Regions from separate parts of the Homo sapiens genome. Here region 1 is linked to region 2. Evidence: fine-mapped expression QTL. A gene starts in region 2. The other region holds a variant in brackets. All regions are shown on one strand. Distances are between the middles of the regions. Region 1 overlaps ELOVL6 (ELOVL fatty acid elongase 6). Region 2 holds the start of ELOVL6 (ELOVL fatty acid elongase 6).

Region 1 (16,716 bases), 34 kb before region 2:
ATTTTTAGTAGAGGCAGGATTTCACCATATTGGCCAGGCTGGTCGTGAACTCCTGGCCTCATGTGATCCTCCTGCCTTGGCCTCCCAAAGAGCTGGGATTACAGGCATGAGCCTCCACACCTGGCCTATTTTTATTATTAATAGAGACAAGCTCTTGTGTGTTGCCCAGGCTGTGATATTAATTTCTTGATGTGAACATGTGATTGCCTCTCAGCAAAGTTATTTTTTGAGCTATTTCTGTCATCAGACCCAAACCGAATTTCTTACCAGCTGCTAACTTTTCTCTTACACCATCCCCACTGAGTTGAGAAGATGGCTTGGTGCTACATGAAAGGGAAGTGGCAGTGTAACCACCAAAACAGATAATCACAGGCTATAATGTCACACTAACTATGGATCCTATCTCTTATTTGTAATTAACTTGGAGAAGAAATGCTAGGTCAAAAATGTGCTAGAGGTCAAAACAGGGACTTTCCACAAAGAGAGATCTGAGTCCAACTTTTACTTTTTTGACAGTTATCAATCCTGTGACTGATTCTTGCAGCATTATTTGAGAATTAAATGAGCAATATATTTTAAGCACGTTAGGCACTTAATATATGCTTGCTACAATATATTGTACTATACAATCTACATAGCATATACTGCTATTATATACTAATATATAATTGCCCAATAAATATTTAGCAAATTTGGGGCATAACTAGTAATATATTTTTTAAACTTCTATGAACATTTAATTTTGAAGTACCTATTGACCACACTCACATAGACCAAAACTTTTACTTCTTAAAAGTTTTTCAATTATAAATTATTATGATTGTTTTTTAAGAATCAAATCATAATGGTCATGGCTTTAAAAATCTTCCTACATTTGGTCACATACTATTTATTACATATTATATAGTTATAGTTATACTAATACAGAAGGGATAGCCCTAGAGACTGAGAGCATAGGAAACTCCTAATCTATAGCAAAAAAAATTATTATTTACAATAGTCAGAAAAAAATAATTTTTCAATCTATCAAAGATACTTAAATAGGTTGTATTACAAATTGAATATTTTACAAAATCAAAGTTTAACAATTTGTATCACAAATATCAGAATTTATCTATGCGATTGAGCTTTTTTGGAACACTTATTTTTCCTCTAACACAATGCCATTCTTTCCAGACAGTAAGAGTCCCAAGTCGTCCTGGTTCATATATCCATATCTAGACCCCGAGACAGTTCAATATGCATGATACAATGGCTACATATTGCAGGTACATTTAAAATAATCAGAATTGCTAGAGAGCTTGGGGGCAGATCAACAACCTCCTCGTATCTAACATCTTCCTAAACCACAGGTTCTCATCACATCTCCTGGAGAGATTTATTAACCTCCCACCCCCACTTCCACAGATGTCAAGGCCTCAGCACTGGTGATTATAAAAGGTTCCCAGACAATTACAACACGGGAAGCACAGCTCATGTTGAGAACCACTGCCCTGAATAATGAGCGTTGCTACAAGGCAGTATAGGAATAATAAAGCACACAGGCATTTGAAAAAGACATTTTGCAAACTTCTCTCAGGAATAGTGCCTTAGTGGGCACATATCCAAATATGCCTGCTTTCCTTTCTTTAAATACCTATTCAAGAGACAAATAAAGGAATAGAAAATAAGAAGGGGAAGACAAGAAAACTGGAGGCTGCACCAGAGCCACCTTGAAAATGTAAAGGATTGGTGGTTGTTACAGAGCCTGCCACATTTAGTAGAATCTTAATATTCAGGAAGTTAAAATGTTTTCTGGAGTGAGAAGCTGTGTCAGGAAAAGAGGATTAGGTAACAAGTGACCTAGAATTAGGATGTGATTCTCCCTGAAGGATTGCTGCAGAGGAGATAATGAAAGGTAAGGGCTTTTCCAAGACATTTCCACATTGGACTGACCTCCATCTAAAATCTTACTAAATATTAACACAAATAAAAGGGTTCTGGCTGGGCACAGTGGCTCATGCCTATAATCCCAGCAGAAGTCAAGGGTGGAGGATCACTTGAGCCTAGGAGTTCGAGACTAGCCTAGGGAACCTAGAGAGACCCCGTCTCCACAAAAAATTAAAAAATTAGCCAGGCATGGCACCAAGCATCTGCAGTCTCGACTACTCAGAAGGCTGAGGTGGGAGGATCACTTGAGCCCAGGAGACTGAGGCTCCAGTGAGCTAGGATTGCACCACTGCACTCCAGCCTGGGCAACAGAGCGAGACCCTGCCTCAAAAAAACAGAAAAAGAAACGGGCCCATGTAATAAAGCACATGCTTCTTTTTCAGGACAGAAGAGACAAGTGGATTGAATTCATTTCTTTAAGCAGTTAGTTTTATACTACCTTAGTAAGTAAAATAGGATTAACGAGTATCTGCCTTGGAACAAAATATATCATAAAACTGAAAAGCATCCACACTGAAAACACAAAATTAGTCCTCAAAGAAATCTTTCATATGGTAACCAGTAACTGGATATTTGCGGTTAAAAGAAGCCATAACAAGGCTGGTAAAAGATGCAGTTTCCTTAGTCACATAATTGATTTGTAACAACTGATAGAAACTGGCTAATCATCATTCTGATTAATCATTTTTGGCAGATTTGAAAAGGAGGATAGTCCAAAAGTAAATGGCCATCTGGGTCACTGCCCATTTGGGGTTCTTCTAGCAAGGCCAAGAAGAAGGAGGAGGGAAAAGAAAGGCTCAAACATTTTATTCGCCCCTAGTGTCAAGTAACCACAAACTTCATTTGTTCCCTCTATAATTTATTGCAAAAAGTAGGAGAAACTGAAGCATAATATGAAATTAATTTGGTACATACAATGTGAAGCAAAAATAGTTATTCCACTTTGAGCTGGTAAAATGCCAAATAATAGTACACAGTAATTAGAGGGAGGGAAAAGAAGTGACTGAATACTCTAAAATATGTCTTGGATAGGCCAGGTGCGGTGACTCATGCCTGTAATCCCAGCATTTTGGGAGGCCGAGGCAGGTGGATCAAGTGAGGTCAGGAGTTCAAGACCAGCCTGGCCAAGATAGTGAAACCCCGTCTCTACTAAAAATGCAAAAATTAGCTGCACGTGGTGGCATGCACCTGTAGTCCCAGCTACTCATGAGGCTGAGGCAGGAGAATTGCTTGAACCTGGGAGGCGGAGGTTGCAGTGAGCTGAGATAGCGCCACTGCACTCCAGCCTGGGTGAAAGAGCAAGGCTCCGTCTCAAAAAAAAAAAAAATTTCTTGGATATTTTATTTCCTTAAGAAAATCATCAACTCAATAAACATTTACTGAGTGCCAACTACCTCAAGGAATTATAGTATCTGCTATGGAAGCTGTAAAGCTATGTGCCCTCAGGGAACTACACATGTTGAAATAGCCTAAATGGCACTTTGTTAGTCTCATTATATTGACAAGCAAATTATTAAAAGTAGGAAATATATATTCATGAAGAAGTGGACCAGCACTTTGTCTTTGACAGGGCAAATCCTTTTCTAGGTACAAGAAGAATTAACTAAATACATTTAAATAATCATTAAATATCCAATTACTTTATATATAAACACAAAGATAAACCAAAGTTCATGGATATAGTACATTGAAACTGTATTTGTCAAGTTAGTTAATTATGCTTTAACACATGGTTTCAGAAAATCATTATATTATGCTCTTGCCCTTGTTGGCAATTTGACACTTTTAACATGTTATTAACAAAAATCCAAACATACTATACAACCCTATTCTGCTTTATATTATGAAAAGTTCATCTTTCCACATCACTACATATTCATCCATCTCCACAGAAATAGATAACTACAGTAAAGAACAACCTAGTGGACCATTGTGTGCACAGTCTATAATTCAATAAACCCCATTTTGAAGATCACAAACATTTTTAACTAAACATCATGTGCTTTATTTTGTAGCACCTGTGAGATCAACCTACACATTTCCTCTAATCATACTAGGTTTACTGAGAAGGAACACAACTCTTAGGAAGAAAAACTCCACACTCATTAACATTTTTCTGTATCCCGAGGGCACGATCAGTCAAGAACCAGGACAAAATTTAATAACCATTCTCTAATTGGCAGCCAAGATATTGGAGAGAGATATATATATACATCTATATATATATGTATATATATACACACACACACATATATATACACACACATATATACACGTGTATATATATATATATATATATATTTTTTTTTTTTTTTTTTTTGAGACAGAATTTCGCTCTTGTTGCCCAGGCTGGAGTGCAATGGCACAATCTCAGCTCACTGCAACCTTCACCTCCCAAGTTCAAGGGATTCTCCTGCCTCAGTCTCCCAAGTAGCTGGGACTACAGGCGCATGCCACTATGCCCGGCTAATTTCTGTATTTTTAGTAGAGATGGGGTTTCGCCACGTTGGCCAGGCTAGTCTTCAACTCCTGACCTCAGGTGATCCGCCTGCCTTGGCCTCCCAAAGTGCTGGGATTACAGGCATGAGCCACCGTGCCTGGCCAAGATATTGGATTACTAAGTTAAACAAATAGTCATGACTCACAAAATCTGAATCTCAGCTCTTACTTTGCATAGTTGCTTTGCTTTTTATCAATTTTAATCACTTCTAGACTTACATTGTGATTTGCATAGATTTTTCTCTCTTTTACCTGTAAAACTGAGACAATAATTATATACCTGACAGCATGAAGATAGTGTCATGCTGGAATATTAGATACTTTATTTAAATAAAGATTTTCCTTTATGCATTTAGTCAATACACTTTTATGGAGTGCCTTCCATGTGCCCAGATACCAGGGCAAACCCAGGGGAACAAGACAGACAAAAATCTGTCATGGGATTTATAGTACAAGAGAACTATTAGTTAACAATATATGAGAGGACAATGATAATAACTTGATGACAAAAGTTACTTTGCTTAATCATGTAAAGTAGAAAAAGAAGTTATCTTTCAATTAAATTTGTATGGTTTTAATTTTTTACTATAGAAATAAAGTACACAGTTTTTCTTTTTTTTTTAAAAGTCAAGTAACACAGGGAGTTGTAAAATAAAAGCCAAGTCTCCTTCTCTTTCCTAATGAACTCTCTTCCACTTCAGATTTTTATGCATATTCACGTATCAATAAATGCATATACTTTCTAAAAATCATATTTTAAAAACTATCGTGCATCTTGGTGTTTTTCACTTTACAATGATGTATCTTTGAGATCTTTGCACATTAACACATGAGACGTTGGTGTTTCTAACAGTTACAGAGAATGCAAAGTCACCCTGCAAAAGGATTCCAAAATGTACAAAAATTCACACTTTCAACAGCACATTTCTCTCTAACACTCAGATGACTGCTCAAAAATTTTAACCTCTCACAATCTAAAAGATGAAAGTGTATCTCATTGCTATTTTATTTTTTCCGTTATGAGTATATTTAGGCATTTTTTCACATGTCTACTGAAAGAAATGGCTAAAAAAAATTTCCTTTCCTGTGAACTTTCTATTCATGTCGTTATTATTGAGCTATATTTTTCTTATGGATTGGTACGACCTCTTTTAACATTAGGAAAAGTGGCACCTAAAGAAAAACACTTAAACATCAAAGTTTTCTAAAAAACAACACATGAGGGTTTGCTTACAACTTACACACACACACACACAAACACACACACACACACACAAACACTATTGGATGTCTTTTTAACAGTGTATCTTGGAGATCTTTCCATGACAGTGTTGCTCCTGACACCCTGTCTCCCTTGACAAAGAAGCTCCTTACAGGTAGAGCATTTTCACTGGCCCTCTCCTTGGCCTTGAATTTCAAAACTGGCATAGATCACTCTCACTATTTTATAGCCTTTGCTCAATATTGTTTTCCTGAACATCCCTGCAAAATTATATCTTCCTTCCACTGGCCCACCCACCCCTGACTTCCTGTGTTGCTTTACTCATTAGCAGGAATCGCTATCAGACATGCTATGTATATACAAACTATAATAATATATTACTTATTGGTCTATGGTCTATCTCTTGTTACTGAAATGAAGTCAGGGATTAAAAACAGTATCAGTAAATAATTTGCATAGGCGTGCTAGTTTACAAGCTTCCATCAACACCAGTCTCATGGTGGTTAAGCTTCAGATATTTTTGATTTACTGAAATTATCCTCTCTAGGCTATTGTAACAATTAAATACTAAAAATATGCATGTTGCCCATATGTTGTTGCAATGTGCACTTTTGAAATACATTGTTTTCTATAGAAAGTTTAATTACAAAGGGAAATTAATAAATTCCTTCATGTGAAACACTGACTATATTCCACAGTGAAGATAAGGATAAGAGATATGATCATGCAACAAATAAAAGGGTTGGGAAACAGCTAAACAGAGAGAAGGAATGCAAGCATCTCACACACTGACTGACTCCTTTATGGTTTTAATTGTTGCTTTTCTATTCAGTGGAGTCTTGCACCTTATTGGTTTCTCCAACAGAGTAGATCAGTACTAAAGAATAAATAGAATTCAAGTCATTATCCAGTACAATTAGCAATGGATGCTGCTACATGAAAGAATGCTATCTATTCCCTCTTGTAATGGTGGTAGAGAGGTATAATATACAACCATTACAGAAGACAGTATCTAGCAACATTTCCAGTGCAATGTAATCCAAGTAATAAAAGACTGGAAAAAAACACAAACGCCCATGTAATGGATTATATACAGCCTGAACAATATAGAATGCAGAAGCTCGTAGTTTACTCAAATGAAATATGTCTGTGTATGTATAAAATATCTTCAAGATGCACTGTTAAGTCCATAGAGTAAGATACAAAATGCTATGTATTATATACTAGCATTTGTGTTCTTAAAGGAAAAAAATATATAGTCAATCCTCATTCACTGATTCTGTATTTGCAAATTCTCCTACTTATGAAAATTTAACCCCAAGTCTATACTGATGGCACTTTCATGGTCATTTTCAAACATGCACAGAGGGATGAAAAATTGGAGTTGCCTGACCTGCACATCCCCAGCTGAGGTGGAGCAAGGTGACACACTGCCTCCTGTTCAGCTCTCATACTGCAAAATAGGTGTCTCTTTTGCAGTCTTATTTAGTTCCATGTCTTTCCAATTTTTGTGCTTTGTGTTGGCAATTTCACGGTTTAAAATGGCTCCCAAGCTTACTGCTATCTCATGTTCCTAAGAACGAGAAGGCTTCAACAGGTCTTACAGAGAAACTACGTATGTTAGATAAGCTTCATTCAGGCATGAGTTAGTGCTGTTGGCTGTGAGTTCCATGTTAAGGAATCAACAATATATGTTAAATAAGGTATTTTAAGCAGAAACACACACAAAACTAGGTTATGTGTTGATCAGAAATATTGTAACCAAAAGCTCTCAGGAAACTAACGCTGTATTTCCCTAAGTGCAAGGGTTCCATATTCACAAGTTCAGTGTTTGCGGTGACTTTACAGAACATATCTACCTGGAATAATGAGAATCTCATTATTTGTAATTGCTTTTGTGCACACAAAACATCTCTGAAGAGCACACTGGCTATCCGCAGGGAGGAGAATTGTGTGGTTGGGGAAAGGGATGTAGTCCTTTATATAAAATACTTTTTCACTGCATACCCTTGTGGAACATTTTAAATTTTATACCATGCCTAGTTTATAATTGTTTTAATCTAAAGTTAAAAAATAAACTAAAAGAATGCTAACAGTAGAAAACTGAGCAAATGATTGAAAGATTACCCATAGTAAAATTAATTATAAAGGTAACAGACAACCAAAATTTTTTCTTAATTTTAGTCAGACTCAGTAAAACTTTAATGTAGTGATTTCAAGAGGCTGTGCTGAACCATTTTGCTGAATATAGACATCTTGTGGGTTGTGGGTTTATTTTATTTTTTGAGACAGGGTCTCA[A/T]TGTGTTGCCCAGGCTGGAGTGCAGTGGCGCAATCACAGCTCACTGTAGCCTTGAGCTCTTCAGGCTCAGGTGATCCTCCCACCTCAGCCTTCTGAGTTGTTGAGACTACAGGCACATGCCACTATGCCTAATTTTTTTTCTATTTTTTGGATACAGGGTTTTGCTATGTTGCCCAAGCTAGTCTCCAACTCCTAGGCTCATGCAATCCCACCCACCTCAGCCTCCCAAAGTGCTGGGATTACAGGTGTGAACAACTGTGCCAGGCCTGAATATATAGATATTTTGGATGACTGTTTTCCCCAGAAAATTAAAGTTGCCATTTTCCTCCTGCCTCCCTACAGGAGGTTAATGAATGTGCTGAAGTACGCCAAATTTTAAGGTACACAAATGTGATATGCAACATAATAAATTCCACTGTTTACTGAGCTTCTACTACATACTAGTTAATAGACATTATTTAATTAGATTTTCACAACTCTGCAAAGCAGTTATTGGGACACTCATTGATGAAGAGAAAACTGAGTCTTCAGGAGTGAACAATTTACTTGAGGTCACCCAGATAGTCAGTGGTGCAGCTGGGGTTTGAACTAAATGGTCTGTGTCCAAGACTATGTAGGGGAAAATCAGTCCCTGTGAATGAAGAAAGACCCAATCATTTAGATAAAAATAGTACAGAATCACACTGAGAATATATGAACTCCAAACTACAATTCAAATGTGCAATCAATATCTGAGGTATTCAGACACAAAACAGAAAGCAGAAGCCTACTTGGGTGCGAAGCCATACACAGTTCACCTGAGGGGGCTTTGTATTTGTTGTGTCCTATCTGGATCTCTCTTCTCCTAGATGGGCCCAGGGCTAACATGGTCTTCTCATTTGCTACTAGGTCAGATGCCAATCCTTTAGTAAGGCTTTCCCTGACCCCCTAGCTAAAACAGCTCCCTCTGGCCCCAAGTCACCTCCTATCACACTATTTTCTTTATAGCAGTTAGCAACATCTAATGTTATTTTGTCTATATACTTGTTTACATGTTTAGTGTTTGTGTCCTAGTGGTATGAACGGTCTCTGAGAACAGCGGCCTTGTGCCTGGAACAGAGTCTGGCAAATACAGGCTCCTCAATAAATATTCATCAAACTGAGTCACTGAAATTTAACAGTTATGGACTGACCGCATAGTGTAGCAGACTGGGATGAAGGCCAAGTCTTATCATCAATGAGTATAAAATGCTAGAAGGGTGATATACAAGTCACAACTGACTTTAATATGAGAAAATCTACCACTGCCAAATGAAAAGCAAAAATGGAAGAGTTTAAGATTAAAAGTTCAAAACCTTAAAAGGTTGTATGAAGGTGGCAGCACTGAGTTGGGCTTTCTAAGTTTCAGAAATAGAGAAAGAAGAGAGATATTCCAGTGGTTTAATTTGCCAGGGTCATAAGATACTTATAGAGCAATGGGAGAACTAACTGTAAGATCGAATGGTGAGTTAAGGTCAAGGAATCTTCCTTATCAGGTGGGTAAATCTGAGTCATAGTGACAGGCAATTTGGGAGCAATGAAAAGTTCTTAGCCCTGGTTGTGACATGACATTTCTGAATGTGTAATGAGAAGTTCAAAAATGTTGGCTAGGAATTCATTACTCAGTTGAAAGCAAAATAATACTAAAATATCTGCTGAGAGTCATGCCAGTAAAAGCTACTTTTCATGGAGAGCCTAGAAAGTGCTGGACATTTTGTAAGCCATTGACACACCTTAACTAGTTTAATTATTACTACAGCCTAATTTGATTATCTCAATTTCACACTTAGAAATGGGGGCCTAGGGAGGTTAATGAATGTGCTCAAGTTCACCAAGTCATTAAGTAGCAAAGGCAGAATTGAAACTGTGTCTGAATCCACAGGTCCCAGAGTTTGATACACTGCTGCCCTGATGACAAGTTAAGGTGAGGGAAGATGAAGCCAAGGCCACCCTAGGAAAGGAAAAAGTAAAACGGTTTGTATAGCATGAGTATTCTGAGCTAGGCACTAAGGAAACACTTTGACCTAACTCAGCTTTCATAAGTCTGCCACAAGATGCCATGAACATTTGTCACAAGAAAGCAAGCACAGCCGGGTGAGGTGGCTCATGCCTGTAATCCCAGCACTTTGGGAAGCCAAGGCAGAAACAAGCTGAGGCAACGTGGCGAAAGCCCATCTCTACAAAAAATAGAAAAATTAGCCCGGTGTGGTGGCATGCACCTGTAGTCCCAGCTACTCAGGAGGATGAGGTGGGAGGACCGCTTGAGCCCAGGGAGGTCAAGGCTACAATGAGCCATGATCACGCCACTGCACTCCAGCCTGGGTGAAAGTGGGACCCTGTCTCAAAAAAAAAAAAAAAAAGAAAAAAAAAAAAACACTCAGGTTGGAAGGCAGGTGGGTTGGTAGGCTGCTCATTTATTTCTGATGAAAGAATTTCTTGTTTTGGGGAATTTCTTTTTTTTGAGACAGAGTCTCACTCTGTTGCCCAGGTTGGAGTGCAGTAGCACAATCACAGCTCACTACAACCTCTGCCCCCCAGGCTCAAGCAATCCTCCCACCTCAACCTCTCGAGGAGCTGGGACTACACGTGCACCCCACCACACCCAACTAAGAAAGGATTTCCTGAATGTAATGTGGTATGTGGCCTTTCTGTGCATTTAGTCTTTATCATGCCACCCAAATTGTGGTAAACATATAAGCTTGTAGAGCAGGTTTGATCTCTATTCTTCAAAAAGAGGACTGGTTTCTGACTAGCTGGACTAGCAAAACAGACCATTTGCTAGATATCTACAAACTATAAGCAACCCTCTCCATTATCCTCTCACAGAAAACAATACCAGGGCACCTGTTTAGTGGAACCATGTGCTATTGCCATTCATAGGCCAAAATAGTTAAGTATCGACAATTTACAGGAGGCCCTTCCACCATTATGTTCCTGATTTTGTGGTTCCTTCCTGTCTAGCAGACCTACTCCAACTCCTTAGCCTGGCTTCCAAGCTTCCAATCGACCCTCACAACCCAACTTTATTCCTCAAACCCCACATAAACCTTAGTCAGGCCAGGCTGATTCTCCTCTCAGCTACTGCTGCTCATCAAATCCTCCATTTTAATAGCACTGCAAGAAACAGGAGGGATGAGCTCAGGTTGTCTAGCTCAGAGACACAGCAGCCTGCACTTCAGCTTTGTTCTCTGTAGCACATGTGGCTGTGGTAGGCAGGAAGTAGCATGGTCTCAGGAGCTGGGCGGTTCTAATCTCATCTGAATCACACACAGAGATGAGTTAATCACTTCTTTGAGAGTCAGCTTCCTCAACTATAAAATAACAATTATGATGCATTCCTGTCAGAACTAACAGGAGGATTTTTGTAATAAAGTATGTGGAGCTGGCCAGGTAACACCTGCCTTGCAAAACCAAACATTTACCCATGCATTGGAGTGAACCCAAGGCTAATTCCCCAAGGACAATCCTATATCCTCTGCCAGAAGAGTTTAGCACATCTGGGAAGTGGGAAAAGAGGGTGGTCTTTTCCACGTAAGAAAACCAGTTAGGCTTCTCTACATCCCTAACAAATTATCAACCCACGATCCTGCTTTCAATACATCTGCCTCCTCTGTCAGTGACAGAGCCTCAGCACTCCTGGGACAGCTTATCAACAAAAGCCCAGCTCAGAGCTGATCTGGAGGAAAGATACTGTCAGCCTTCCCCTGGGTACTATAAATCCCAGCCTGCTATCAAGTGAGATCCTAGAGAAGTTGCTCAAGGCACATTCATTTCGCCCCTGGACTGCAGTGTTCTTTGACATTATATCCCTGATTTTCCTTCAAATGTTGTTGTCTTTGGGCTAGGACCTTGGTTTGTTCTTAACTTACTTGAGCAATAATGAGACATCACCTTTCTTTTCAGATAACAAGAATTCTCTTAAATTCTTGTGTTTCAGCCAGGCGCGGTGGCTCACGCCTGTAATCCCAGCACTTTGGGAGGCCAAGGCAGGTGGATCACGAGGTCAAGAGATCGAGACCATCCCGGCCAACAACCGTGAAACCCCATCTCTACTAAAAATATAAAAATTACCTGGGTGTGGTGGTACGCGCCCTGTAGTCCCAGCTACTAGAAGGGCTAAGGCAGGAGAATCGCTTGAACCCGGGAGGAGGGGTTGTAAATGAGCCGAGATCGCGCCACTGCACTCCAGCCTGGTGACAGTGAAACTCCGTCTCAAAAAAAAGAAAAAATTCTTGTGTTTCCACTTTTGCCCTTGCTGCCAGAAGGCAATGAACACTGCCTGTTAATCTCAGCATGGTCAGCCCTCATGGTTAGCATATAAGACATCATGAGTATTCTGGTGCTACCACCATGAAAGGAAACTCCGTCTTCCTTTTTCATCAACCCAACTATTAGCTCTCAAAGTCCCTGCCTTTTGCTGGAGTGTTTCTAAATTTCTTAGCACATAGTGATTTTCTATACTATAGTTACTATAATACTATATTCCAGCACTGGAATATTTGTTCTTTTTCTGTAGCATTCTACTGTATTTTGCATGTACATCTGCCTTCCTAAACAGACTGTGATCCAAATAAGTTGAAATATATACAGAGGGTCTGTCTGTCTGCCAATGCTAGGACATTGCCTTCTATTTCTTTGTCTTCTCACCTGTCTCCTGCATGTCAGGCACACTCTCATCATTTAGTAATCACCAGCTGACTTGACCCAAGAAGACCAAACAGTCTGAATGCACACAGTAGCTGAAGATCACAGGGTTTCAGTATCTCTCCACTGGCAAAAATATTAGGTGCATTGAGACACACTTCTGGTTCTCAGGAATAAAAACTTTATCCCATCTTCAAAATGTAATCGCTATTAGAGTATTTTTACATGCACAGTAAAAGGACTTGTGTTTTAGTACATACAGCGTTAAGTACTTAACCTTATACTAACTGTAAATATGTCTCTCTCTGTGTGTGTTTACAAATTGGCCTTGTTATTATACATGCTGTTTCATAAGCAGAGTTTTCTGCAACATGTGGTATACATTTTTTTTGTCAAGATATATTCTTCTATAATATAGTTTTAATGGTTACATAAGAGTTACTAAAGGATGTTTTTTTGGTTGCAGAGAGGGGAGTGAAGGGGGAACATTATAAATTTTATTTATTTTCTTGAGGCAGAGTCTCACTCTGTTGCCCAGGCTGGAGTGCAGTGGTGCAATGATCCTCAGCTTCCACAAGTAGCTGGGACTACAGGGTGCCTGCCACCACCTCAGTTATGTATGTATGTATGTATGTATGTATGTATGTATGTATGTATGTATGTATGTATGTTTGTATGTAGAGACAGGGTCTCCCTGTGCTGCTCAGGCTGGTCTCAAACTCCTGGCCTCAAGCCATCCTCCCACCCTGGCCTCCCAAAGTGCTGGGATTACAGGCGTGAGCTGCTGCACCCAACCTCTCTTATGCTTTTGGAGAGAAAAAATAAAACACCTATCTCCATGATTAGGGCTATTCTAACAGTTTGTACAAAACTTTCTGAGGCCTTGAGAGGCAGAAACATATCCAGGCAATTAAGGAAGTTCTTTCTTGTATTTTTGATATATAATTTTAGATTAAATGCTTAATTCCAATTGGAAGGTATAGTTAGAAAACGTCTACTACTTAAGATTAATATTTTAGTGGAAATTTTGTCTTTGTATCAATTTATGAACAGAGCCAAAATTTAAGTGAACATAAAAGAGATTCAATGAAAAAAAGTTAAAACCCTTTGAGAGTAAATCATTTTTAGGTGTATTTTTAGCTTATTGCATGAGAATTATATGGCTATAAATCATTAGAGTAAGGGTCAAATTCAGGCCAGTGTGATGGCTCATGCCTGTAATCCCAGCACTTTGGGAGTCTGAGGTGGGCAGATTGCTGGAAGCCCAGAGTTCGAGACCGGCTTGGGCAACAAGGCGAAACCCCGTCTCTACTAAAAAAATATGCAAAAGTTAGCTAGGCATGGTGTTGCATGCCTGTAATCCCAGCTACTTGGGTGACTGAGGCACAAAAATCACTTGAACCCAGGAGGCAGAGGCTGCTGTGAGCCAAGATCGTGCCATTGTACTCCAGCCTGGGCGACAGAGCAAGACTGTCTAAAAAAGAAAAAAAAAAAAAGTCAAATTCAATGGATGCAATCAGAACTTTTTCAAAAACTGCTCTCACGTGCTTTCATTGTGCAGAGCTCATTTAAACAAAATGAGCCCCACCATATGCTTTTCAAAATATCACCTTTGAAAATGGTTTCTGTAATTTTCCCAGTAGGTGCTGACGTCATAAGCCAAAGCAGGAGAGACCCAGACTCTGTGGACAGGCAGTGTGGACCTAGACTGCCTGGGTTTGAAGCCTCACTCTGCCAATCACCAGGTGTCCCACCTTTTCCAAGTTACTTAACCTCATCTCCAAGACATGCCCAATCACAAAGCCTACTTCATAAAATGGAGGGTTAATTAAATTAATGTTCATGAAGCCTTTAGTGGGTACGTGGTAAGCTCAATGATTATTAGTTAATAATATCCTTATTAAACGTCCAGTAAGTCTTTTTTAAATGTTATTTTCTTTGAGAAAGGGTCTCACTCTGTCACCCAGGCTGGTTTGCAATGGCACCATCATGGCTTACTGTAGCCTAGACCTCTTGGGCTCAAGCAATTCTCCCATCTCAGCCTCCCAAGTTGCTGGGACTGCAGGTGTATGCCACCACACCTGGCTAATTTTTGTATTTTTGGTAGAGACAGGGTCCACCCACCTTGGCCTCCCAAAGTGCTAGAATTACAGGTGTGAGCCACTGCACCCGACCCCAACAGAGTTTTGGGGTTTTTTGTTTTGTTTTTTTTTTTTTGAGACGGAGTCTCGCTCTGCCACCCAGGTTGGAGTGCAGTGGTGCGATCTCGGCTCACTGCAATCTCTACCTCCTGGGTTCAAGTGATTCTCCTGCCTTAGCCTCCCTAGTAGCTGGGACTACAGGTGCCTAACACCATGCCCAGCTAATTTTTGTATTTTTAGTAGAGATGGGATTTCACCATGTTGGCCAGGCTGGCTGGCCTGTAACTCCTGACCTCAGGTGATCCACACACCTCAGCCTCCCAAAGTGCTGGGATTACAGGCGTGAGCCACCATGCCTGGCCAGCCCAATAGAAGTCTTTAAATAAGTATTATTCAGAATTTCTAGAAAACACACTCCAATCATCTTCCATATTAAAACAATGGTGAAGGATTCACGGTGTGTGTGTGAGCACACACAGGTGTTTGGAAATTATCCACTCTTCTTCCCAGTTCTCTCTGGATTCTCCCTTAGGAAACAAAAATTTTTGATCTAATTTTAAGAAAATTTTTATTTTTATGAATTTATGCTTATATTCATTTTATATTTAGTTTTCTTTTCTTTCTTTCTTTTTTTTTTTTTTTGAGATGGAGTTTCCCTCTTGTTGCCCAGGCTGAGTGCAATGGTGCGATCTCAGCTCACTGCAACCTCTGCCTCCCAGGTTCAAGCGATTCTCTTGCTTCAGCCTCCCAAGTAGCTGGGACTAAAGGCGTGTGACACCACACCTGGCTAATTTTTGTATTTTTAGTAGAGATGGGGGTTTACCATGTTTTACCATGTTGGCCAGACTGGCCTCGAACGCCTAACCTCAGGTGATCCACCCACTTTGGCCTCCCAAAGTGCTAGGATTATAGGCGTGAGCCACTGAGCCCAGCCTATATTTTGTTTTCTATATTTATTAGATTTATAAATTTTTTAAATCTCCAGCCTTAAGAACATGCTTTATGATTTAAATTTGAAAAGACAAGTTCTCTATATGAAAATAAAGTTCCCTTATCAGCATTTTGTGATATATTTACTGCTAAGTATAGGTTGTGTGCTGCCATTATAAATTTGAATTATGCAAAAAACAAGATAAAGGCTTGAACTTTGCATGTTACTTCTAGAACAGAATACAGCTGATCCTCATTACTAAGAATTCATACTTATTTAGCATACTCGCTAAAATTTATTTGTAACCTCCAAATCAATACTCATAGTACTTTTGTAGTCATTTGTGGTCATGCAAAGAGCAGTGAAAAAATTAAGTTGCCCAATGTGCACATCCCTAGCTGAGGCTAAACCAAGTGATGCTCTGCTTCTTTTTTGGACTCTCATTCTCTAAACAAATGTCCTTTTTGCAGTGTACTTGGTCCTACCTTTCTTACATTTTTGTGCTTTTTCATGATTTCCCTATTTAAATTGGCCTCTAGTGCTGACATGCTGAGGAGTGTTCTTAACCACAAGATTATGATTTGCCTTAGAAAAACACGTTAGATTAGCTTAGTTCAGGCATGAGTTGATATTGACTGCAAGCTCAATGTCAACAAATCAACAATATATTAAATAAGATGTGTGATATTATATATACAGGTTTCATCCACAGCTCCTGGCTCGCAACTCCCACAGCCCTGTTAAAGTCTTTTGTTATAATGTTGGGGCACTTTAGGCCCAGAAAAAGGCCTCAAAAAATGGAATCTCTCTCTCTCTGACCTTCCCTTGCCCTGGTTTCCCCAGCCCAAGGCAGAACTCTAACCTTCCCAGGCCTTTCTGATTGAGTCCTGAGACCCTCAATTCAGAAGGGATCTTGCCCCTTACCCTGGAGGAAGGAATGTGACACACAGGCCAAGAAGAATCTGAACAGACAGGCCTTGCTGGGTTTCCCGCTCAGTCAATGAGTATTAGGTTGGCCAGGCGCTGTGGCTCA
Region 2 (16,716 bases):
CATCGTGCAAAAGATCATAAAGGGTGGCTGCAAGGGTTTAACAGTTAAAGTACGTAAAACATTGGCCAGGCGCGGTGGCTCATGACTGTTATCCCAGCACTTTGGGAGGCCGAGGTGGGAGGATCACCTGAGGTTAGGAGTTCGAGACCAGCCTGACCAACATGGAAGAAACCCCATCTCTACTAAATATACAAAAAAAATTAGCCAGGCATGGTGGCGTATGCCTGTAATCCCAGCTACTCAAGAGGCTGAGGCGGAGAGTTGCTTGAACCTGGGAGGCAGAGGTTGCGGTGAGTCGAGATCATGCCATTGCACTCCACTGGGCAACAAGAGTGAAACTCGGTCTCAAAAAAAAAAAAAAAAGTAAAACATTATAAAAGGATGCCTGCAATCAGGTAACCATGTATTAACTGTTAGTATCATTGCTCCTGAATGAAGAAAATCTACCCTGCTGTCTAGGTGTGGTGGTTTACACCTGTAATCCTAGCACTTTGGGAAGCTGAGATGGGAGGATCACTTGAGGCCAACAGTTCAAAACCAGCCTGGGCAACATAGCAAGACCCCCATCTCTCCAATACAATAAAAAAATTAGTTGGGCAAGGTGGTGCGTGCCTGTAATCCCAGCTACTTGGGAGGCTGAGGCAAGAAGATCGCTTGGACCAAGAAGCGGAGTTTGAGATTACAGTGAAGTATGATTGTGACACTGCACTCCAGCCTGGGTGACAAGCAAGACCCTGTCTCTATTTAAAAAAGAGAGAGAGAGGCTAGACGCAGTGGCTCACGCCTGTAGTCCCAAAACTTTGGGAGGCCGAGGTGGGCGGATCACTTGAGGCCAGGAGTTCGAGACCAGCCTGGCCAACATGGTGAAACCCCGTCTCTGCTAAAAATACAAAAATTAGGCAGGTGTGGTGGCAGGTGCCTGTAATCCCAGCTACTCAGAAGGCTGAGGCAGGGGAACTGCTTGAACCCAGAAGGTGGGAGTTGCAGTGAACTAACAGCCAAGATCATGCCACTGCACTCAGACTGGGAGACACAGCAAGACTCTGTCTCAAAAAAAAAAAAAAAAAAAAAAGAGAGAGAGAGAGAGAAAAGAAGAAAATGAAGTTATACTTGTTTACTTGTTTCACTTTAAATAGGATTATAGGGCTTGGCGCAGTGGCTCACACCTGTAATCCCAGCACTTTGGGAGGCCGAGGTGGGCAGATCACAAGGTCAGGAGATCGAGACCATCCTGGCTAACACAGTGAAACCCCGTCTCTACTAAAAATAGAAAAATTAGCCAGGTGTGATTGTGGGCGCCTGTAGTCCCAGCTACTCGGGAGGCTGAGGCAGGAGAATGGTGTGAACCCGGGAGGCAGAGCTTGCACTGAGCCGAGATCATGCCACTGCACTCCAGCCTGGGCGACAGAGCCAGACTCCATCTCAAAAAAAAAAAAAAATTGGATTATAAACCTCATGTGTGTTTTGAGGAGGTAGATCTCCCTCCCCAAAATATATTTCATCAATAAAACTTTCCTTATATCACAACTAGGAACTCTTCTATAAAAGTTTTAGCAAGAAAAAAAAAACTGAAATATGAATCCCTGTAAATAAAAGTATTACAAAACTATGAGTGATTTTCTAGCAAAACTACTTACAATCAGCATGTCTAATTTATCTCAGCAAATTTATCTTAGCAAAGGTAAGTGTAAGTCTTTTTTCTCCTGTACTTTTTTTTTGTACAAAGTAAAGACTTAAAGTTAAATCTCAGTAAGTTCACAGTGGGCAACTAACTCAGCAAAGGGTTTCCTAGTAATAGGAACCTTAAAACTAAAAGTCGCAAACACTCAATGCAGAAAGGAATCATGATAAATGTGTAGGCTTGACCTTAGATGACTGACATGGTTCCAAGCTTTGGGATAACTATTGCACAACCAACTTAAAATTACAAATTCATATTCTTTACTCTTGGGCAATACTTTTTTTGTTTTGTTTTGTTTTGAGACGGAGTCTCACTCTGTTGCCCAGGCTGGAGTGCAATGGTGCAATCTCGCCTCACTGGAACCTCGGCCTCCTGGGTTCAAGCGATTCTCCTGCCTCAGCCCCTGGAGTAGCTGGGATTACAGGCGCCCGCCACCACGCCCGGCTAATTTTTGTAGTTTTAGTAGAAATAGGGTTTCACCATGTTGGCCAGGCTGGTCTCGAACTCCTGACCTCAAGTGATCCACCCACCTCAGCCTCCCACAGCGCTGGGATTACAAGTATAAGCCACCATGCCCGGCCACTTTTTTTTTTTTCAATTTTTGTGTTTTTTTTGAGACACAGTTTTGCTCTGTTGCCCAAGCTGCATTGCAGTGGCATAATCTCAGCTCACTGCAACCTCCGCCTCCAGGTTCATGCCATTCTTGTGTCTCAGCATCCAGAGTAGCTGGGACTACAGGTGCGTACCACCATGACCAGCTAATTTTTGTATTTTTTGTAGAGACAGGGTTTCGCCACTTTGACCAGGCTGGTCTCGAACTCCTGACATCAAGTGATCCGCCTGCCTCGGCCTCCCAAAGTGCTGGGATTACAGGTGTGAGCCACCATACCCGACCCATACAATACTTTTTAAAAAAGGACCCATGTATCTCTAAAATAAATTATTGGAGGGTAAATATAATTAGAGATGCTGGGTTTTTTTAAAGTTCTCAGAAACCTCAATAACTATGCCAACATTTGTACCTGCCTGAATACATGTACAATCAGAATCTGGATAAAGGAATGAAGTTATGAGTTTTAACATTACAATATAGCCAAGTCATAGTTTCACTCAGATTACCTAGGGTTATCAACAGAAATGACATATGTGGTACAGGTAACTTTCCCTAAACCCTCCTAAAAAAGATAAATGAGAAGTAAATGGGAGCGGGTGGATGTGAGCTACATAAAGAGTAAAGGGAGGGCTGAGGCAAACTTTGTAGAATGATGTCTGGTTCCTATTAATAAAGGACAGTTTGGCTCACCTGTGTCCATATGTGAAAAATTAAGTTAATCATTAAGACAATGTTTGGTTAACTCATTTCAGAAAATAAAATACTTGGACCTGAAATATTTCAGATCACTTAAGCCAAGATAAATTCCTGAATTGCCAGAATGGTGCCACACTCATTTTACTTTGTTGTCTAAAGACTGATTAGATGGGGGGCCGGGCACCTGTAATCCCACCTACTCAGGAGGCTGAGGCTTGAACCCAGGAAGCAGAGGTTGCAGTGAGCCAAGACCAGGCTCAAAAAAAAGAAAAGAAAAAGAAAATTGATTAGATGGTTATTGTATATCCCCCTAAGTATTTCAAAACCTCCGTCCCCCTCATAACTCTTCCACTATCTAAGCTGAAAGATTCCTCTGGCCGGGCATGGTGGCTCACACCTGTAATCCCAGCACTTTGGGAGGCCGAGGTAGGTGGATCACCTGAAGTCAGGAGTTCGAGACCAGCCTGACTAACATGGTGAAAACTCGTTTCTACTAAATACAAAAAAATCAGCCGGGTGTAGTGGCGCATGCCTGTAAACCCAGCTACTCAGGAGGTTGAGGTAGGAGAATCACTTGAACCCAGGAGGCAGAGGTTGCAGTAAGCCGAGATGGAACAATTGCACTCCAGCCTGGGCAACAAGGGCAAAACTCCATCCAAGAAAAAAAAAAAAAAGAAAGAAAGAAAAAAAAGAAAAAGAAAGATTCTTCTTTCAAGGAAGTATATAAGGCAACTCTTAGATATGGAATAAGTTGACTTTGAAGTTTCCAGCCATTTTTCTTACAAATGCACGCAGAAGGTTACGAGGAAGATTTCAGGAAGAAATTTAAAGCAATCCTCACTAAAGGAAAAACAACAGTGAAATACTATGTCTGCATTTGAAAAGTTTCATTAAGTTCCAATGTTATACACTTTGACACATTTAGAATCACCCTCAAACAAAAAAGCAACAGGCAATCCTCTGAAGATCACAAAATTTTACTTCCAATGTGAAAAAGACTTCATGAAAAAATTTTAAGCACTAATTATAACTAGTACAAATACACAGATGGATAATATAATCATAAAATATTTTGCATTAAGCTGGCTTTCATCCTTTGGAATCCTAAACAAGAATTGCATGAATATTTATAATTTATTAAAAGATACATGAAAGTTCATATCAAAGCTCCAGCACAACTTTACATTATTTTCTAGGACCCCACACAGATTACACGTTTTTTCTCTATGTATTTTCTCATTCTTCTCACTCTTAACCTAGTACATATGCCTACATCCCAGTGCTTTCTAAAAATTATTGAATGTCATGTTATGATCCTCACACAAGTTTTAATCCTAAATCAATATGAACTGTGATACCTCAAAATAAACAGCAAGTGACATGAGTACAATATAGACACACTATATTCCTACAGAGCTGACCAAATTTGTTGCTGCAATGTTAATGATGAAATGAAACTCTGGCCTACTCTGTTCCATAGTCACAGATGCACTGTTTTCCAGCCATTTTTCTTACAAATGAATGTAGAAGGTTGCAAGGAAGACTTCAGGAAGCAATTCAAAGCAATCCTCACTAAATGAAAAACAACAGCCAAATACTATGTCTGCATTTGAACAGTTTCATTAACATTATGCTGCTATATTTTTTATGCTGCTATATTTGAGTTAAATGCTAACACAGGTTTTTAGTGCTTTTTATGTTCTTTAATCATGAAATTGTACATCGTGTTACTTTCCAAACTTCACCTACAAAAAAGATATAGATGTACAACTCCTTTTAAAATGTTTCACGGCCGGTTGCAGTGGCTCAAGCCTGTTATCTCAGCACTTTCGGAGGCCGAGGTGGGCGGATTACTTGAGGTCAGGAGTTCAAGACCAACCTGACCAACACGGTGAATTCCCATCTCTACTAAAAATACAAAAATTAGCTTGGTGTCATGGCAGGCACCTGTAATCCCAGCTGCTTGGGAGGTTGAGACATAAGAATCACTGGAACCCGGAGGCAGAGGTTGCAGTGAGCCAAGATTGTGCCACTGCACTCCAGCCTGGGCAACAGAGTGAGACCCTGTCTCAAAAATAAAACAAAATAAAATAAAATGTTTCACTCCATTTTTACCTTTGGTAAAAACAAATTTGTGAATAAAAAGGCTTCCTCAGCTGAACAGCATTTAATTCTTAAAATTCCTATACTATCTTATAGACTCTATAATACAGAATACAAAATGTTAAAACAAGTAAACCCTTTTACACCACCAAGGGAGTGAGTGGGGAGAAAAGTCAGAAAAATATATAAAGCTTTGAAAGGCTGGATGTGTGGAGAATGCCAGGAGAGGGGGAGGGTTTCATGAAGTTCTAGGCAAGCCCTTTGAAGACGTCACCTCACATACATAATGTTACAGCAGTCAGCACAGGCCTCCTGCTTTCCTATTGGTGGGCACCGTGTCAGCCGACATCAGAAGATAATCATCATTGGCTAGACAATTACAACTGGAGCAACTAGCATCCACTGCTGTTAGCACAAACCTGGCAGGCTGCTGAAAGAGAAGGCAGAGAGAGCCCAGCTTCCCTTCTCACTCAATGAATTATATGTCGCCTTAGCAATCACCAGGTGATTTTGCTCCCTGGCTAGCAGCACTTCCAACTTAAGTCAGCTCTTAGTGAGAAAAACAGGTAAAGGCCAGACATCTCATAAAAGAGCAAAATGTCTCTATTTTCAATGTTGTAAAATTGCAAGGACTTTTCAGTGAAAATTAGAATTCAAAACTCCTATTTGGACCTATGAGCAGACATTTTTCTCTACCTCATGTAATAAACTCTCATTGACCAGATAATATAACCAGACAGGATATTTTTCACTGGACATGTAGTTTCAAGATGAGGCCCAGGATGATTCTACAAGGGAATACACTTATTACTTTGCATTTCAATTGCTATTCTAACCTATTATATATGAAACTTTTTGCTAGCAAAGTAAAAAAAGTCTGCAGTATTTACTTTCATGGCTAGGCCAATGAGTATGAGGTTAATGATTCATTAAAGCAGCAATAAACTTGAAAACTAGCCTCAGTTGAACCCTTTAGGGTTTATACAAATGCTACTCCAAAAGTCGGGCCCCATTCCATTAACACGTGCTATGGTTAGTAAGTATGGATTATAGGGTATGTTAACATTAATTTGCGCTATGGTTAGTAAGTATGGATTATAGCGTATGTTTAATAAAGTATTCTTATTTTAGGTCCTCTTAAATGATGCTAGTTAGCAAAGGCAGCATACTGGCAAAATACTACTCCTGGCCATTCTCACAGTTCTTCAAAAGCCAATGTAGTTCACTTTTGAGAGAGGATGTTTTAATTCTCTAAATTAACAAGTTTTGCCTGTTACTAAGAAGAGATTTATAAGGACAACCATAAATTCCCAAAAGACAGAGTAGAAGCTTCACTATATCATGTTTTTCCTCCAGAAGCTATTTCAAACCATTTTAAGTTAATGAGTCTGAAAAAGGTAAGATTTTATGGTTTCCTCAAGTTCCTCTCTCCTCAAGAGGGTCTAAGCCTTGGTTATGGAGTTCCCTTCTCCTATTAAAAAGGGAGTGAAAAGAAAATCTGGTTCAAGACTTTTTGTCCTGCATTAGCTGGATTCTATTAAAAATAAAAACTAAAAGCTTTAATTTGAACCTCCCGGGTTCAAGCAATTCTCCTGCCTCAACCTCCCGAGTAGCTGGGATTACAGGCACCCGCCACCACGCTCGGCTAATTTTTTTGTATTTTTAGTAGAGATGGGGTTTCACCATATTGGCCTGGCTGGTCTCGAACTCCTGTCGTCAGGTAATCCACCCACCTCAGCCTCCCAAAGTGCTGGGATTACAGGCAGGAGCCACCACACCCGGCTAATAAAATTAAATTTTAAAAAGTGTTTAAAGTCTTTTTGGCTGTACAGTTTTTGGGGAGGGAGGAGAGATAAAATTGGGCACCCTGGGATATTGGGAGAAATGCACAAAATCTGGCATTTAAAAAAAAACATGAAAGTAAGACAATTAGGGTCAGGAAGAGTTGCAAGGGAGGGGTAACAGCCAGCAGGGTTCTTTGACTGCAATAAGCAATCTAAGAACATAACATCAACAGAGAGCAGAAGCCAGGAAGGGAAAAATCCCAAGATGTGACTCTGCCACGGTATGCAAGTTCTAGCCTGTTAACCTTCGGGTATTAACGAGTAGTGCTGGCAATAAAATGGGCACCAATCACCATTTCAACTCACTGGACATTTTCTCAAGAATGTGCCTTATGCAAAGCACTCTGCTAGGTGCTTTGCAGAATCAAGAGTGGGATGACAAGAACCGTAACCTGAAGAGCTGATGGTCTGTAAGTTAATAACCATGTATATAACAGTAAAGGATATTGCCAGAAGAAAGGTACAGATAAAGAACTAGGAGGAAACAGTGGTCAGAACCTAACAGGAGTAGATACGTTGGCACATTTTTGTCATTTTCAGTCCCACGAGGGCTGAGACCTGTCTGGCTCAGTACTGAGTGAATGGAGAGAAGAGGCGGGAAATGGTACCTGAAGCAGGCCTAGGAAGTGGCCTCAGAGAAAAAGCAACAAGTAAATAAGAGGCAGTATCGACTGCAGTGGGCTAGGAATGGCGGGCGTACAGTGAATGGGGTCAGCCAGCAAAGCGAGGGAAAGCGGACTCCGGAAGAGCAGGTTAAACCAGGACGCAGCAAGTCAGAGATTCGGCACAGAAGCAAATGCTGACCACACTGACCACACAGGCTAATGCGGGAGGACTGTGGGCCCGAACAGGCCGGCTGGAGGATATGACAAACATGTGCGGAGAAGACCCGGGCCCGGGGCTAGCCAGCAGCGCGGTTCCGGCGCCCGCCGGCTCCGGCCACCGCCCCCTCCCCGCCTCCAGCACCACCCCCTAAGCGGGAGGAGGAAGTGCATCCAGAGAAGGACCCCGGGCGGTGGGGCTCGAGGGGCCTCGGCTGCCCCGAAACGCCGAGGTCTATCTGCGGTCTCGACCCTTAGTGTCCAACCTCCTTCCGGACCCACCCCTGCACCCCCTGGCCTCAGCGGCCCGGGAGGGCACCAGCCCTGTGCCTGTGTGGCTGCTGCACTTCCAGTCCTTCCGAGCGGCCCGCGTCCCCGCCTCTTAGGCTCCGGCTCGGGCCAGACGCGGCCCTTGGGCCCCTAGCCCACCGCCGCCACCAGCCACGCCGCAGCTCACCCCAAGCAGGCCTGCCCCGCCGGTGCGCGCGGCCCAGGAGGCGGGCTCCGCCCGGCAGCCGCCGCAAATGGCCATTGGGGCCCGGACCAGCCCGCGGGAAGCTGGGAGTGGGCGCGCTCCGGCCGGGCGGGAGGAGAAGGAAGCGGCGGCCGGGCCTCCCGACACTGGCCGGCGACTCCAGGGGGCTGGAGGACAGGAAGTTGAAACCCCCTTTTCGCAGCTGCGGCCCCGTGGCACCAGCTCCTACTGCACCAACCCGCCCAGGCCACAGGCGCGCCGGCGTTTCTGGTTTCCAGTTGAAGAGGGCAGGCGGGAGGGCGCGGGGCACGCGCGCTCGCGCACGCGGCGGGCGGAATCCCCCGGCTCCCGGGAGACCCTGCGGCCCGACCCTCCCCGGTCAAGCCATCCCCCGGGCTGCCGGCCCCTTGCCTAGCTCCGGGGTGCGTTGGGCTTGAACTTTACAGATCGCCAGACCCGAAGTTAAGGGGAGGAGAGGAATGCCTCTGCCACAACCCTGTCTACAAGAAGCGAGATGAGCACACCCTCCTCTGTTAAATATTGCAAGGTGACACTGGATCGCCTCCCACACAGGGATTTTCAAAAGGTCTGGCGGGGGGACTACAGTAAACAAGAAAGGTGTTTTCCCTGATTATTAGTTTCCTAGGGAAGAGCCCCTAAGGACTCTGCAGACGGAGGGGCTTTTAATCTGTGTGCCTGAACTCCAATCAGCAGCTACGCACAGAATTAGAAGTGTGTCCAAAAGGCGTTTCCGTAAAACAGAAACTTAATAATGGCGTGGCTCCACTCGCTCGGGTTCATTCATTTATTACTGTTTTCATTGTCCCCTCCTCCCTCCCACCCGGTCTCTCTATGAAACCGGAAAGGGAACCGCGTGGGGAAAGGGGTACTAAAAAGGGGGCATCCGCCTGAGGAGCGGCAGACAGAGGAGGACGGTGAAGTAGGAGCGCTGCAAGGAGAAAGGAAGGACACGAGGGATGGAGAGACAGCGAGGACCAGGGCCAAGGGCGGCGGGCGGGAGAGGGTTAAAGGCAACAGGAGACAAGGTCCTCCCTCCACTGCCTTTCACACTCCGGTTGCGGGAGAGGCCAAGCGAGAAAACCCAAATCTAGATGAAAACCGGGGGAGGGGAGGGGAGCACAGGTAGGCGATCTGGACTGTGGCATCTCTCCCGCCTTCCCTGTCGCGCAGACATCACCCTGTGCACACACATATGTTCTGTGTTATATAATCTATATAAAAGATGCCTATGTAGCCGCGGTTCACACAGGGGCACCCACAGACCTCGCGCTTCATGTACCCCCCCCCCCCCAGCGTCTCCTGCACCCGGGAGACCCGAGAACTCAGCGATCAGCTGGCTGCCCGCGATTCATCGCTCCATTCACGCCCAGGCAGGGAATACCGACATTAAGGCACTCCGGGAAGACGCGCAGGGCTCCCGGGAACAGTATCAGGCGAAAGCATCACGTACCAGTTTTCCTGCATCCATTGGATGGCTTCATTCTCGTTGAACTGCTTTTCGAATTCATATTCTTGTAAAGTCAACACTGACATGTTCATTGGGGCTGATCTTCGGAGTCGCTACGTGTTCTCTATACAAAATAAAATAATCTGTAAAGCGCTTGATTTCGAGTGTTCTCCTGTCTGCTTCCCCCACCCACCCCCCTAGGTCTTCCCCACGCCGCTCGGTCTCCAGCGGTCGTCTCTTCTCCCAGCCTCTCAGCTACATCCAGGGCTGAGCATTGCCTGCGCCTCCGCTCCCAGCTCCTCTCTCTGGGGCTCTCCTCCTCCCGGCGTCCGCATCCACCGTAGGAGGAAATGAATGCCTTGCGGTCTTAGTGCCCGCACGTTTGTCCATCACCCTTTTTACTCGTCTACAGGGAAATCTCCTCCCCCTCGTGCGATTTGAGAAATTAACCCTTGGCGAGGGAGTGTGCGAAAGAGCGCGACCTCTCTCCGCCCGGGGGGGACAGTTTTGTTTACAGCGAAGGTGGTTGGAAGAGTGGGGGAAGGGCGCAGAGAGAAAGGAAGTGGCCTGGAGGTCATCCAGATCCCCTAAGCCCAACCTCGTGGGCCGCCTTGCTTTGAATGAAGTTTCAGCTTGCAGGGCGCATCCCCGCGGCGCGTGGACCCGAGAGCTTGGCGAGTAAACGATTGGGAAATAGTAAAACCTGCCAGCTCTCTTGCAAGAGAACTCCGGGCAAATCTACGTTGAGATCACCAGTGAAGGGAATACGCTTCCCACCTCCTCGCCCTACCTCTGGGACCACCCCCACCCCTACCCCCACCCCCACCCGGGAGCTCTGGCTTAGATTCACGCTAACCCAGGCCCTGCGGACGGCAGAGCTCCTTAATCTCGTACAGACAGGGGATGCTGAGTGTGAGGATAGTGGATAGGCGAGAGAGGCTAGTAGCCGGAAGTGGAAGAAAGGGCTGGGTTAGGTGGAGGGTTTAGGTACCGGGAAGGGGGGGATTAATGAACAGAGGCAGAGTGGGGAAGGAAGCTGACAGGAGAACTGGACCGACTGGCCAAATGCAAAAACTTTATTTGCATGCATGAGAAATTTGGCTTTACTTGCTGTACTTGTAGGTAGAACAGAATATGTGAGGAGAGGGCTGAATGTACTGTTGACCCCTACTGGGCCCTCAGCCTCCAAGAGGAAAAACTATTTTCTATTCCATCCATCCCTCCACTCATTTCCCCCAAGAGTTTGGAAAAATGAAATATGAGACATGGAAGTATCTAATGATGTAATTGTAAACTTTACAAAATAATAAGGAGCCCTGCTTTTAAAAATTAGGTGGATATTAGGACCAGAAAGAAAATTCCCCTTCTGAGAACATCCCCCCACCTCCCCAGTAGTCCAAAAAGGGTACTTTCATTCAATTTAGATGCCTCTAACCCACAAAAAGTGGGAACTGGGAGAAAAATTTTTAAAGGAGGAAGGGACCGGCCGCGGTGGTGGCTCACAGAAGTAATCCCAGCACTTTGGGAGGCCGAGGTGGGCGGATCACCTGAGGTCAGGAGTTCAAAACAGCCTGGCCAACATGGTGAAACTCCGTCTCTACTAAAAATATAAAAATCAGGCAGGCGTGGTGGCGGGCACCTGTAACCTCAGCTACTCAGGAGGCTGAGGCAGGAGAATCGCTTGAACCCGTGAGGTAGAGGTTGCAGTGAGCCAAAATTCTGCCACTGCACTCCAGCCTGGGCGACAGAGGGAGACTCTGTCTCCAAACAAACAAACAAAAAAAAAAAAGAGGAAGGTCTAATGAGAAAGTAAAGAAATAATTTTTAAAATCCAGTACAATATATAGATTAAAGGGCTAGCCTAGTTGATTAGCAAATTAATGTATACATTGACACTGCCAAAGATTCTGTGTAGGGACTGTCCTCATCTCCCCCATTAAGGGTTGTCTTTCTTTTTTCTTTTTCTTTTTTTTTTTGAGATGGAGGAGTCTCGCCCTGTTGCCCAGGCTGGAGTGCAGTGGTGCAAACTCGGCTCACTGCAACCTCCGCCTCCCAGGTTCAAATGGTTCTCTTGCCTCAGCCTCCCCAGTAGCTGGGATTATAGGCAAGCACCACCACGCCCGCCTAATTTTTGTGTTTTTAGTAGAGATGGGGTTTCACCATGTTGGCCAGGCTGGCTGTGATCCACCTGTCTCAGCCTCCCAAAGTTCTGGGATTACAGGCATGAGCCACCATGCCCAGCCAAGGGTTGTCTTTCTAGAGACCTCTACAGTACAAGTCTACGTCACTTTGAAGTAAGGCCCAGGCCAAAACTCTTGGCAAGATTGGGCTGGAAGATAGGTGTGGCCAGATAAGAAAGAACCATTTTAGCACGGTGCCTGAGCCTGTGAATAATCAATAAATATTTGTAAAGTGAATGATTCATCAAATAAATTAAGGTAAGAAGTGAGAAAGGAATCAAGACAGAAAATCCACTTTGGGTGGCTGAGGCAAGACAATTGCTAGAGACCAGACTGGGCAACATAGTGAGGCTCCATCTCTACAAAAAATTAAAAATTAGCCAGGTGTGGTGGTACATGCCTGTAATCCCAGTTACTCTGGAGGCTGAGATGGGAGGATAGCTTGAGCCTGGGAGGTCAAGGCTGCAGTGAGCCATGATCACACCACTGCAGTCCGGCTTGGGTGACAGAGTGAGACCTTATCTCAAAAACAAACAAGCACTGTCAGTGACTTTGAAAACTGGTGACTCTGTATGGAAAGCAATTTGGCAGCCTATATGATAATTTCATTTATTTTTTAGAGATGGGGACTTGTTATGTTTTCCACGCTAGGACTATAGGCACCCAGCATATATCACAATTTTAAATCCACACCATTAATTCACCAGAATTATTTTTTTTTTTGAGATGATGTCTCCCTCTGTTGCCCAGGCTGGAGTGCAGTGGCGCGATCTCGGCTCACTGCAACCTTTGCCTCCTGGGATCAAGTGAGTCTCCTGTCTCAGCCTTCCAAGTAGCTGGGATTACAGGAATGTGCCACCATGCCCAGCTAATTTTTGTATTTTTAGTACAGACAGGGTTTCACCATGTTGGCCAGGACGGTCTTGAACCCCTGACATCAGGTGATCTGCCTGCCTCAGTCTCCCAAAGTGCTAGGATTATAGGCGTGAGCCATCGCACTTGGCCTACCAGATATATTTTGAGTACATACTCATCTGAGCTCTTGGGACTCACAAATGAGACAAACAGGGCTCTTGCGCACTTGGAGCTTACATTCCAGAAGGGAAGACAAAATAATTTCTTAGAGAATGAAATGCTAGGATTACAATTTAACAGCATGACATGAAGGCCTGGGAGTGCTCATTTAAACCTGGAAGGCCTCAGGGAGAAGGACTTTGAGTTGAGACCCCGCTGGCAAAGAGCCAGCCACCTCTTGCAGAAGTGTTACAAAGAAGAATGAGCAAGTACAAAGGCTCCTAGGAAAAGAATAAATTTGCGGGATTGAGGACAAAAGGCTGGTGTGGCTTCAGGCCATCAGTAAGGAGTAATTGAAAGAAACAGGTTGAAGAGACAGGCAGGGGTCAGATCTTGGCCACAGGTAAATCAAGATAAGGTGTTTAGATTTTATTCTCAACTGCAGTGGAGTGGAGGAGGATAAAAGAATGTTAAACCGAATAATAGCATGATAATTCCTAGTAAATTCACTGCTATGGATATACTCACCGAAACATTCCGGATATATGTCTAAGATATTCAGCATTGGGCTGGCATTATGCTTGTAATCCCAGCACTTTGGGAGGGCGAGGTGGGCTGATTGCTGGAGCCCAGGAGTTCAAGCCCAGCCTGGGCAAGATGGTGAAAACCTGTGTCTACAAAAAAAAAAAATACAAAAACATTAGCTGAGCATGGTGGCATGTGTCTATATTCCCAGCTACTCAGCAGGCTGAAGTGGGAAGATCACCTGAGCCTGGGGAGGTCAAGGCTGGAGTGAGCCATGATTGCGCCACTGCACTCCAGCCCGAATGACAGAGTGAGACCTTGTCTCAAAAAATGACAACACCAACAAAGAAAACCCCCACAAATATATTCAGCACTGTTTATAATAAAACACTGAAAATAATAGTTTAAGGGATAATTGGAAGGACAGCCAAGAAAGGAATGAGGTCAATAGACTCAAGTCAATGTGATTCATTGTCAGTCCTGGTGGGCTACCTCTTGACAAAAGCAGAGGAGGCAGCCCCGCTTACAGGCTATATAGCAAGGTTTTATAGGGCATATAACTGGGTCAGGGTGAAGGAAAAAGAAAAGGCCAGGGAGTAGGGGATCCTTTGTGCCAGGTGTCTGACCGCTTCCTGGAGTTGTTTTTCTTGCCAGTTCTGTTGTGTAAGGTAGACTTCTTGACCGCATCCTGGAACAGCTGGCCTCGGGTCCGACAGTTACAGGTGGGGCTTTGGGGCTTAGGTCTATGGGAGCGGGAAACAGTCCAGTTGGGTGGACCCTAACATTCCAGCCTTTTAACAGATGATAGAGAAGGGGCATTGATTTCATCAGACTGCTTCAGGCTGAGAGTGGGCAGGGGCTAGGGGAAAGGCTGGAAAGTGGAGGTTGGCTTTGGTTTTGAAAGTGTTGATACTCCTGGAGTAACATCATGACCTGTATGGTTCCATGGGCAAAGGCATGGATACGATTCTGCAAAAACTGGGTGAAGAGGAGTATTAGGCAAGGACCTAAGATTAGGAGGAGAAAAAGGATTACAGCAGGTCCAAGGAGAGAGGGTAGCCAGGCGGCCCAGGTGCTGAGAGATCAAGAGGGCCACGTAGAGGAGCTGCTTTCCCTGATCTTTTGGGCTCGATCTTTGAGATTTTGTTTGTTTGTTTGTTTGTTTTTTACTGCATCCTGAACTAAGCCTGACTGGTTAAAATAAAAGCAGCATTCTTCATCTAGGAAAATGCAGAATCCTCCTTTGTCGGTGGTAAGTAGGTTGAGACCTCTCTGATTTTGTAAGGCGACTGCCGCTAGGGAGTCCAGCTGAGCTTGTAAGGGGATATGGAAGTTGCAAGGTTGTCTATACCATCTGAAAGGTCTTTTGATAAGGTTTTATGGTAATAAGAGGAGGTTGCGATTCCTGCTACCCCTGTACCTGCGGCCACTGTGATGCCTAGGTCTACAAATAGTGGGATAAGTTGTATGGCCTGGCGCCTGCTGTGTGGGATTTGAGTATTTAGGGTTTGGAGGGGCAGGTTTTCTCCTGGAGCTATGTCTATTTTAGGGCTGAGGAAGACCAGTGTACAGGTGCCTGTACAGTTGGTGGGTAGACAGAAGCAGGTGGAGGTGCTGCATAGAAAGAATATACCTTGGCTAGGGAGGCAGAATTGGGACTGTATGGCAAAAAGGGGGTGTAAAACGTTCTCTGAGCACCAGGCGTGGAGGTAGATGTCTTGACTGCATCCTGGAACAGCTGGCCTCTGGTCAGACAGTTACAGGAAGGTTTAGGGTAGTGGGTTTTACTTTTGGCCTTTGAGGCTTAGGTCTAGGGGAGGGGGAAACAGTCCGGTTGGGTGGACCCTAACAAATAGGAGGCTGATTAAATAAATGGTGACACACCCTTATAATTGAATAGTATAAAGTCTTTTAAAAAAGGCTCTGTAGGTTGCAACATCAAAAGAGATTTCTGATAAATGTTCAAGGAAAATGAAAAAGCAAGGCACAGGACATTGTGTATATAGTGTCGCATTAAGAAAAAAACATCTCTCGTTGTAGTGGTTGGGGAGGAAAAAAAGAGGAAAACATGTAAGGCCGGATGTGGTGGCTCACACCTGTAATGCCAGCCATTTGGGAGGCTGGGGAAGGAGGATCGCTTGAGCTCAGGAGTTTGAGACTGCCTAGGCAACATAGTGAAACCCTGTTTCTACAAAAAGAAAATAATAATAATAATAATTTTTAAAAAATCATTAGCCAGATGTGGTGGCACAAGCCTGTGGTCTTGAGCCATGTTAGTGTTACTGCACTCCAACCTAAGGCAACAGAGCAAGACATCAGCTAAAAAAAAAAAAAAGAAAGAAAGAAAAGAAAAGAGAAACATCTACACTGTACTTTTTTTTTCTGGAAAGACAAAAACAAGAATTAATTGGTGATGTATACATTGAGAAAAAACCTGAGAGCAAACAAAAGACGGTTTCTGTACTTTATTTTTCTGTAGTGCTAGAATTTTCTTACCATGAACTTGATTTCATTTAAAAAAAAAGAAAAAAAATCAACAGGAATACCTGAGCTGTGAAATAATGAGTCACTTTTCTATTTGTAATTTTCTATACTGAACAACTTAACATGTAACATAATATTAGAAGCTAAACATATAAAATGGTGATTTTTCTAGACTTATTTTCAATTACAAGACATACAGTAAGGTTAGGAAAGATGGGAGGGAATGTTGGGAGGGTGCCCAGCAACACCACTAAGAATTTTTATGAAAAGATTTATTGTGTGTGTTTCTAACCATAACTAGATAGGTAGCTAATATTGAATATAAATAACTGGGGCTCAAAAAGTAACAGTTAATTTATATTTGGTAGTAAACTTTTAAAAATTTGGGAGGCCGAGGTGGGCGGATCATGAGGTCAAGAGTTTGAGACTAGCCTGGTCAACATAGTGAAACCCCGTTTCTACTAAAAATACAAAAAATCAGCTGGGCGTGGTGGCGGGCGCCTGTAATCCCAGCTACTTGGGAGGCTGAGGCAGGAGAATCGCTTGAACCCGGGGGGCAGAGGTTGCAGTGAGCTGAGATGGCGCCACTGCAATCCAGCCTGAGAGACATTGCTAGACTCTGTCTCGAGAAAAAAATAAAAATTAAGCCAGAAGAGAAGGAGGAGTATTTGAAAGACAGAAAGATTTACTGCAAAGATGACTTGACTACTAAACAAGGTATACAGGTTTTAGTCTTGGCTCTTTTACAGACAGGTATCTGACTTTAGGGAAAGTAAATTGATCCTTTAATTTTCTTTTCTTTTCTTTGTTTT

The links. PIP is the estimated chance that this variant, and not a neighbour inherited with it, causes the effect.
Region 1: its variant is fine-mapped to the expression of ELOVL6 in whole blood (TOPMed, PIP above 0.99).

Annotation. Positions count from the first base shown.
Region 1 is chr4:110,154,429-110,171,144 of GRCh38, forward strand. All of the region lies in intron 1 of ELOVL6 (ELOVL fatty acid elongase 6), which reads right to left. Among named protein-coding and RNA genes, the nearest start is that of ELOVL6, 36 kb to the right of the region's middle. The variant A/T (reference allele first, on the strand shown) is at 7,950.
Region 2 is chr4:110,188,543-110,205,258 of GRCh38, forward strand. ELOVL6 (ELOVL fatty acid elongase 6) reads right to left here and starts at 10,073. Exons shown (of 4, transcript NM_024090.3): 1 at 9,705-10,073. The coding sequence starts at 9,793. RefSeq lists enhancers at 7,771-8,065, 9,654-10,446 and silencers at 7,800-7,909, 8,110-8,739.